Linked DNA regions of Homo sapiens: region 2 is linked to region 1. The links come from fine-mapping of genetic effects on gene expression. A gene starts in region 1. The other region holds a variant in brackets. All regions are shown on one strand. Distances are between the middles of the regions. Region 1 holds the start of SUPV3L1 (Suv3 like RNA helicase). Region 2 overlaps VPS26A (VPS26 retromer complex component A).

Evidence for each region. PIP is the estimated chance that this variant, and not a neighbour inherited with it, causes the effect.
Region 2: its variant is fine-mapped to the expression of SUPV3L1 in lung (TOPMed, PIP 0.91).

What each region holds. Positions count from the first base shown.
Region 1 is chr10:69,178,125-69,183,124 of GRCh38, forward strand. SUPV3L1 (Suv3 like RNA helicase) reads left to right here and starts at 2,110. Exons shown (of 15, transcript NM_003171.5): 1 at 2,110-2,438. The coding sequence starts at 2,168. RefSeq lists an enhancer at 1,825-2,194.
Region 2 is chr10:69,126,746-69,131,745 of GRCh38, forward strand. The region is part of intron 1 of VPS26A (VPS26 retromer complex component A); the gene reads left to right. Among named protein-coding and RNA genes, the nearest start is that of VPS26A, 5.1 kb to the left of the region's middle. The variant A/G (reference allele first, on the strand shown) is at 2,552.

The DNA.
Region 1 (5,000 bases):
CAGGAGTTCTGAGACCAGCCTGGCCAACATGGTGAAACTAAAGAGAATACAAAAATTAGCCAGGTATTGTGGTGCAAGCCTGTAGTCCCAGCTACTCGGGAGGCTGAGGCATGAGAATTGCTTGAGCCTGGGAGGTGGACGTTGCAGTGAGTTATGATTGCACCACTGCACTTCAGCCTGGGCAACAGAGTGAGACTGTCTCAAAAAAAAGAAAAAAAAAAGATTTAGATTTGTATCTGACTCTACCACTTACTGGGGCAAGTTAGTTAACCTGGTGACAATAATACCTCTAAATTGTTGTCAAGCATATTAAAAGATTAAAAGGAACAACATAGTGCTTGCCTCAGTTACGTATTAAACGTTTGGTTTATCCTTCATTCTCCTAGTTTCCAAATCTGACGAGACATCATTGTTTATTAACATTTTCTAGCATATTTAGTCACTCACTACATTATCTAAGGAGTCTTGTAAAACCTCTCATTCCACATACATGGTCTCCATCATAACTCAGACACAGGAATCTACCACCTTCAGCTAGAACTGTTGATAAAGTTGTAATTTTCCTCCCTGCATATTTGTGTTTATCCTAGTCTATCCTAGGTACTTCCTAATGAATGATTTCTCTTCTCAAAAATATAATCACTATTTGTAAGCCATAGAATTAGGTCTGCGTTAACTCTGTTACTTAAATTTTTTTCAGTATGTCTTTTCCTTAGTTAAGCCTCTGCTTACATCGTTTCCACTGACTAGAATTTACTTACCGCTTCTCTATGTTTTACTTTTAAGTCTGGCAGAAATCTCCTTACCACTCTCAAATTGCTCCTTTCTTTGAACTGCCATTAGTCTATTAGAGTAATAAGTGCATTATTTAACGTGTACTGTTCTTACCACCAAAACCAGATCAGAACCTTTGAAAGCAAAGGACTGTCTCCTTGTATCCCTGATGTTTAAAAATTATTTTGTGAATCAAAGGCACGTGGCAAATTGTTACTGGAATCCTATTAGACATACAGTATTGTATATTACATAACACGTTCCTTCAAGTTGTAAGATCTTAATGATGTAAGTATAAAGAGATGTGGATGGAGATGCTAAACTTGTGAATTTTTTTTTTTTTTAGACGGAGTCTCACTCTGTTGCCCAGGCTGGAGAGCAGTGGCCCGATCTCGGCTCACTGCAACCTCTGGCACCCAGGTTCAAACGATTCTCCTGCCTCCGCCTCCCTAGTAATTGGGATTACAGGTGTGCACCACCACGCCCGGCTGATTCTTGTATTTTTAGTAGAGAGGGGATTTCACCATGTTTGCCAGGCTGGTCTCGAACTCCTGACCTCAGATGATCCACCGGCCTCGCCCTCCCTAAGTGCTGCGATTACAGGCGTGAACCACCACGCCCGGGTTAAACTTGTGAATTTAACATGTTGCAGCCTCACATGAGAACACGGTATTCAACAAATGCAATGGAACGAAACTATGGCTGGGGTACAGAGCACGTATTTTTGCCATGTGGTCACAACTATGTGGTCATAGCTGCTAGGATGATGTACGCAAACTGCTCACATTAAAGCAAAAGTACTTACGTAATACAAGGGGTTTAATAGTGCAACAATATTTCTTAGCAACATTTCTGAGGGGCATATCAAGTTATTATCGCTAACGTTATCATATCAGGAAATGACGGTTAACAATGCAAGAAACTTTTGGGAAATGCTATTTAGTGTTTGAGTCCGCAAGACATACTCGTACCCTGAGCATTCGCAGTTGCTGCTCCACCACCCATTCTCTCACTGCTCACCCACGTGCTTCTGGACACTTGCTTACCAAAGTACTAGTTTGCATCACGTGACACGACTAGCAGGCCCCCTCCGCTCATGTATGACATCCCAAAGATGCCTGATTATTTTCCCTTCTTTAGGGAAAGGTGGTCCCAATCACCAACAAAACAGAGAAAGAGAACGAGAATTATCTCTAGTGGTTTTGCCTGCTAATCTTCTTTTTCCCTGAAAGAACACCCTCACGGCACGGCGTTTTCCTTAACGGTCAGGCGTTTTCCCGGGCAGCTTACCTGCTCGGCCTGGGTCTTTCTGGACAGCAGGCGCTGGAGGTGCGCGTCACTGTCCGCCGCCGTGTCCGCGGCTGCGCCAGACAGTGTAGAACCTGCGGCCTCGATGTCCTTCTCCCGTGCCCTATTGTGGGCTCGGCTCCCGGCGGGGCGCCAGGCTGGCCACCGGGCAGCCATCTGCTCTGCCCTTCGTCCCCACTTTGGGCCCTTTCCCGGGGTTCTGGGGCAAGTTTCTGTCCTTGCCACCGCCTCCTCCTCTGCCTCCGGTGGCTCCAAAATACCAAACACGTCCTTGTTCGTGCCCCTGACTGTGAAACCTCAGGGCCCCAGCGCCGACGGCGACGTCGGGGCCGAGCTAACCCGGCCTCTGGACAAGAGTGAGTGCGGGAACTACTGAGGGCGGCAGAGGGTGGTGTCTGCTGGGCCGAGGCTGGTTGGGAGGAAGCTACATCCCCTTCCCCTGGGGATCCGAGGTCCCATCGAGTGTTGTCATCGTGCCTCTCAGTGTCTGCCTCCTTCGCTGGTGTGTGAGCCCCTCAAACGGCTTAGGACTGTATCTGATTAATTCTTAACGCCTCGTCCCAGAAGCGGCCTTTTCCCTTTTACTGCCCTGCTCTCTGAATGGTTTAGACACTCATGTGTTGGGAAGATTTGACTTTTTTGAGTTGTTAGGTGGACGCCCGCTCTTTCTTGCATTCTTTGTTTCTCTCCCACCCCCGAATGGGATGTGGCAGTGAAAAGCCAGCGGAGACTCCTTTTAGGATTCTTTATCATTGAGGAGGCGCCGACTCATACCACGCTGTTAGGCTGTGTGGTGGTTGCCAAGAGGAACCAGACTCAGATCCAGATCCCCTCTTAAGAAACGTAACGGTATCGTGGGGGAGGACACGTGTATGGAAAGTGAACTGTAATACAAGGTAGAACATGACAAGGTCTAGAACAAGGTAGGGTGTCCCCGGCTCCAGAGAGAAAAGAAGAGGTAGCATCAGTTAGTGGCAGCGGGCTTTGCTCAGCAAAACTTAAGTTTGGATGGATTCGTTGACAGAGAGGCATGTGAATGTTTTCAAGGTGAGTTTCGGGATGATTAGGGAGGTAAGGGAGTTTCCTCTGACCATATGAAACTGGGAGATTGAGGAAATGCTATCCAGAATTGTCTCCAGGAATAGGAGGAGAAATGTCTCACTTCAACAAGCGACATTGGTGCCTCCTATTGTAAATCTAAAATATAGACTACAATATGTTTTTCAGAGCAGAAGTACAGTACTTTCACTAAACATGTGATGGAACTCACAGTATATGTTATTCTTTGACATATTCTTCCAGTGTTAAGCAAGGCCTTTCACTTTACTTGGTGCTGGGAGACTGTCTTTATTTTCTGCTGTTATAACATAATACCTGAGACTGAGTAATTTATAAACAATAGAGGTGTATTTGACTCATGGTTCTGAGCCGGGATCTGATGAGGGCCTTTGGCTGCATCATCACATGGTGGAAGGTGGAAAGGCAAATGAGCCTGTGAGACAGAGAAAGGGGGCTGAACTTATCCTTTTTTCCTGTGATAACTGACTCCTGTGATAATGGCATTAATCCACTCACAAAGGCAAACTCCTCATGTCCTAATCACCTCTTAAAGGTTCCACCTCTCAACTGTTAAAATAGCAATTAAATTTCAATATGAGTCTTGGAGAAGACATTCAAACCATAGCAGAGAATGTGTTATTTTAATAATGTAATTATACTATTATTTATTTTTAAATTATAAAAATACATAAAATTTACTCTTTTAAGCTTTTTTTTAGTTTTTTTTTCTTTACTTTTTTTTTTTTAGAGACAGGGTCTTGCTCTGTTACCCAAGCTGGAGTATAGTGGTATGATCATAGCTCACTGTAACCTCCAACTCCCAGACTCAAGCAATCCTCCTGGCTCAGCCTTCTAAGTAGCTAGGAATACAGGCGTGCATCACCATGCCTGGATAATTTTTTAATTTTTTGTAGAGATGGGGTCTTGCTATGTTGCCCAGGCTGGTCTCAAACTTCTGGGCTCCAGGGATCCTCCTGCCATGGCCTCCCAAAGCCCTGAGATTACAGACCTGAGCCACTGCACCCAGCCAGTCTTAATTGTTTTTAAGCACATAGTTCACTAGCGTTAAGTATATTGACATTGTCGCGAAATAGATGAGAACTTTTTCATCTTGCAGAGTTGAAACTCAAACAATAGTTTACCCATTAAAGAACAATTTTCCATTATTTTATATTATTTGAAGGCATAAGGTAATTTGGATGAGATAATTTGCCTTATTGTATTCAAATATTGATAAATTCTTATTTTCTGCAGCTATTCCAATTCACCTGAAAATGTAAATGTCTTTGCTGCTTCCTGTAAGAAGATAGAATAAAGACATGGGTTTGTCAGCACTAGATTTTCTTCTGGTGGAGAATCCTTAGATACTTCATTGGGTCTGTGTGCCAGGTGATTTTTCATCTCCTTTGACTGGGATTGGTCCAGATGTTGAATTTACTAGAATGATTTTTCAGCATGGCAGGAGGGGCTACAGAAGATGGTGCATTACTACACTCTGATATAGCCATGTGGTTAAGGTGTCAGATTTCCACTTAGCTTAGCAATCAGGACAAGAAGCTGTCACTTCTCAATCTCTTTTGCCTACTCATAACCCAAAAAGTTGAGGTACTTAAAGGCTTTGTCCTGCGTCACCTTGCTGCCTTATTCTGTGCTGTCTATGGGGTGTCTCATTCTCTCTCTCCCCTCACTAATTCAGTATTCCTCTCAGATCTTTGTCTCTACCCTGGACCTCTCTCCTTCACCCTGGACCTATATATCTCGCTGCCTACCAGGTGTCTCCACTTGTCTTTCTTACACACACCTCACCTTAGCATGTCAAGACAACTTACCTTCCCCTCAGCCTGCTCCTGCAGGTGCTC
Region 2 (5,000 bases), 51 kb before region 1:
TTAATTTCATTACCCTTTATTTCAAATGACAGAAGTTGCACATCTTAGAAAAAACTTTGAAAGAGAGACTTTGGGTAGAGATCTTTCTCTTTCAGTTCTTTCTAAAAGACAAGCTTTTTTCCTCAGTTATTTTTTTCTTTTTGTTCTCTACCTGTAAAATGTAAGATATCCACAATTTTCTGGAGGTGTTTTTTAGTAAGACTAGTTCTTTTATTATTATTATTATTTTTTGAGACGGAGTCTCGCTCTGTCGCCCAGGCTGGAGTGCAGTGGCGCGATCTTGGCTCACTGCAACTTCCGCCTCCTGAGTAGCTGGGACTACAGGAATGCGCCACCACACCCGGCCAATTTTTTTTTTTTTTTTTTTTTTTTGTATTTTTAGTGGAGACGGGGTTTCGCCATGTTGGCCAGACTGGTCTCAAACTCCTGACCTCAAGTGATCCGCCCGCCTTGTCCTCCCAAAGTGTTGGGATTACAGGTGTGAGCCACTGTGCCTGGCTGACTAGTTCATTTTCGATATGCCCTAATGTAAAAAAACTGAATGTTGGTCGGGCGTGGTGCACTTTGGGAGGCCGAGGCGGGCGGATCACGAGGTCAGGAGATCAAGAGCATCCTGGCTAACACGGTGAAACCCCGTCTCCACTAAAAATACGAAAAATTAGCCAGGCGCGGTGGCGGGCACCTGTAGTCCCAGCTACTCGGGAGGCTGAGGCAGGAGAATGGCATGAACCCGGGAGGCGGAGCTTGCAGTGAGCCGAGCTAGCGCCACTGCACTCCGGCCTGGGCGAAAGAGCGAGACTCCATCTCAAAAAAAAAAAAAACCTGAATGTTAACCCAATGCCATATTGTCATGGAATAACTGGTTAAAGTGCAGTAATTTATTACTCAACCTATTACTTTTTTGCATATGCTATACTAGGCTTTTTAAAAATGCCATTTGATTGCTTCCAATTTTAGTGTTTTGATTGTATTTAAAAATATCTTTTTTTTTTTTTTTTTTTTTTTTGAGACAAGCTCTTGCTCTGCCGCCCAGTCAGTGGCTTACTGCAGCCTCGACCTCCTGGGTTCAGCCTCCCAAGTAGCTGGGACTGCAGGCACACACCACTATGCTGGGCTAATTTTTTAAATTTTTGTAGATATGGGGGTCTAGCTGTATTGACGAAGCTGGTCTTGAACTTCTGGGCTCAAGTGATCCTCCTGCTTCAGCTTCCCAAAGTGCTAGGATTACAGGTGTGAGCCACTGTGTTCTGCTACTTTTTTTAAAATTATGAAATATTTCTTGCATCCAGAAAATAATAGAGGATAGCACGTAGTTTTTCACATATTTTTAATGGTTAGGAATTTAAATATTTAAGGAATGGTGTCAAAACACTGTTTATCATTATGGTGTTAATTGTGAAATTTTATAAAATGAACTTGGTTTATACCATTTTAATTGGTGGCAATTTTAGTTCTATCAAAATTTTATTTAACTTTGGGATTTGATTTTTTTTTTTTTTTTTTTGAGGCAGAATCTCACTCTGTCGCCCAGGCTGGAGTGCAGTGGCAAGATCTCGGCTCACTGCAACTTCTGCCTCCTGGGTTCAAGCGATTCTGCTGCCTCAGCCTCCCGCATAGCTGGGACTACAAGTGCATGCCACCACGTCTGGCAAATTTGTTCTGTTTTTGTAGAGATGGGGTTTCACCGTGTTAGTCAGGATGGTCTCGATCTCCTGACCTTGTGATCCTCCTGCTTCGGCCTCCCAAACTGCTGGGATTACACGCGTGAGCCACCGCGCCTGGCGATTTGATCTTTTAATGTCAGCTTTCAAATCCCAAGTGGAACTCTGTGTGTTTAGGTATATGCATGTGGAAAAAAGTTATAATATTTCCTTTTCTCTGTAAAACAATTTTTATAGTTTTCAAATCTCATTTTTCTTTTAAGTAGCTCTGGGAAGTGTCAGGAGGAATGAGAAAATTAATTTTAAGGCCAAGCAAGGTGGCTCACGCCTGTAATCCCAGCATTTTGGGAGGCTGAGGCGGGTGGATCACTTGAGCCCAGGAGTTTGCGCCTGGCCTGGGCAATGTGGCAGAAACCCTGTCTCTACAAAAAATATAAAAACGAGCCAGGTGTTGTGGCTCACGCCTGTAGTCCCAGCTACTTGGGAGGCTTGAGGTGGGAGGCTTGCTTGAGCCCATGAGGCAGAAGTTGCAGTCAGCTGAGATCATACCACTGCACTCCAGCCTGGGTGACAGAGTGAGACTCTGTCTCAAAAAAAAAAAAAAAAAAAAAAAAGAATTAATTTTAATTTTTCTATCTCTGTTTTATAACTCAAATGAGTTATAAATGTGGATGTCATAAGGAAGGAGAGCTCATTCTTATTGCTCTCTCTGCCAATTAGCATTATCCTTCAATATAACTGATTTTGTTTTCCATCTAAAATAGACTGCTACTTGAAGATGTTGTCTTCTACCCTTTCATGATTGCTCCTCCCACACAACCCCTGTACCCTGCTAGCTCAGCACATATTCGATTAGTAAATGTGAGCTGCATGATTTTAAGCTGCTATAC[A/G]TTCTCATTTCTGTAGCCCTTAGAGGAAATGTACTACAGTATTTCAGAATTTACCATTTTGAGTTTAAGACTTGGAGTACGAAAGCCACCTAGGAATGGACAGTGTGTGTGACCTATCACTGATGATTTTCATTCTCTTTTTTCTAAATTAGTTCAGAATAGTTTTCTGATTAAAATTAGTTTTCTGGTTAAAATTCGAGTTTGTTATTTGTAATTTTGCCAGAAAAGATTAAAACGTGTCAAAAAGAAAAAAAAATTTTTTTTTTTTTTAAACAGAGTCTCACTCTGTCCCGAGGGCTGGAGTGCAGTGGCGCGATCTCGGCTCACTGCAACCTCCACCTCCTGGGTGCAAGTGATTCTCCTGCCTCAGGTGCATACCACTACGCCCAGTTAATTTTTTGTATGTTTAGTAGAGACGGGGTTTCACCGTGTTAGCCAGGCTGGTCTCGAACTCCTGACCTTGTGATTCGCCCACCTTGGCCTCCCAAAGTGCTGGGATTACAGGTGTGAGCTACCGCGCCTGGCCCAAAAAGAAAATTTGCTACATATGTCAAAAGTACTAATCTGGTAATTCTTTTAGTTGGTTGCTTAAAATTATAATCCCTTTTGTTAATACAGGATTTAGGAAAACATCTCATTTGAGTATAGCATCACCTTGTGCCCTACATAGCCACAAAGCAAGCTAACAGAAAGCAAACTAATGACTCTCCTAAGTGAGGACAGAACTGAGGTTTAATATAAATTCCATTGATATAGTTTGCTACTATACCAATGCTAATTTGCTCAGAAAGGCTAATATTATTGACTATTCCAGATTTCAGTTAATTTCTCTTGTATATTTGTTTATTTTCTGTTATTAAAATGGTATGTGTTTGTTCAAAATTAACATTCAATAGGTATTTTAATGCCTTCTGCTAAATGCCATACGCTGCCTTAGATGAGCCTCATGGAGTTTACAGTTCAGTAGGAGAGTCAGGTACTAAGTAAGCCTTGTGAAACCTAAATTTGGAGAATCCAGTTTTGATTAGGAAGTCAAGGAAGGTCTCATGGAGAGGGAGTCAAACTGAAACTCAAAGGGTGAATTAGGTTAAGAATACTTTGCTTGGCTCTAAGACAAGAAGGACACTAGCAAATTGGAACTGTTGAAGAAAGAGCTCTGAACGTTGGAGGCTGAGTAGTTGGAGAGATGACTAGTGTCAGATATATGTAGACCACATTAGAGAATACATTGTGTGTGTGTCTGTTTTTAAAATCACAACTGAAGTAAAATAACTATGAAAAAGTACACGAATAGGTGTATAGCTTGATGAATTTTCACCAAGTGAAATACCTCTGTATCAAATGCTCAGTTATAAAAAAAACAGCCAGAACATTACTAGCAGCCAGAAGCTCCCTTTGTGCTTTCTTTCAGTCACTGCCTGACCTGTAACACCATAATGTACCTTACATGTTTTTTGCTTACTATGTGAGTGGAGTTATACGTACGTTTTGTGTATTCCTTTTGTGTCTGGCCTCTTTCACTCAACATTATGTGTATGAGATTCATTCTTGTGTGTAGTTGTATCTCCTCTAATTCTATTGCTGTTTGGTGTTCCCATTTGTATGAATATATACTAAATTGCATATATCCATTCTCTTGTTGATTGATACTTGGATTGTTTCTATTTGGGGCTATTATGAATAACACTTGTGAACATTTTTTTTCTGGAGACAAATTCTTGCTCTGTTGCCCGGGCTAGAGCGCAGTGGTGCGATCTTGGCTCACTGCAACCTCTGCCTTCTGGGTCCAGGTGATTCTCCTGCCTCAGCCTCCCGAGTAGCTGGGACTGCAGGCATGCACCACCATGCCCGACTAATTTTTGTATTAAAGACGGGGCTTCACCATGTTGGCCAGGCTTGTCCCGAACTGCTGACCTCAAGTGATCTGCCTGCCTTGGTCTCTGAAAGTGCTGGGATTACAAGTGTGAGCCAGCGCGCCCAGCCAGATATGTTTTTTAAAGATCATTCAGAGCCAGGTGCAGTGGCTCACGCCCATAATCCCAACACTTTGGGAGGCCGAGGCAGGAGGATTGCTTGAGCCCAGGAGTTTGAGACCAGCCTGGGCAACAGAGTGAGACCCTGTCTCTACAAAAATTTTTTTAAAAAAGATCATTCTGGGCCGGGCGCGGTGGCTCATGCCTGTAATCCCAGCACTTTGGGAGGCCAAGGCGAGTGGATCACGAGGTCAGGAGATCGAGACCGTCCTGGCTAACATAGTGAAACCCTGTCTCTACTAAAAATACAAAAATTAGCTGGGTGTGGTTGCAGATGGCTGTAGTTCCAGCTACTTGGGAGGCTGAGGCAGGAGAATGGTGTGAACCCGGGAGGCGGAGCTTGTAGTGAGCCAAGATTGCACCACTGCCCTTCAGCCTGGGCAACAGAGCAAGACTCTGTCTCAAAAAAAAAATCA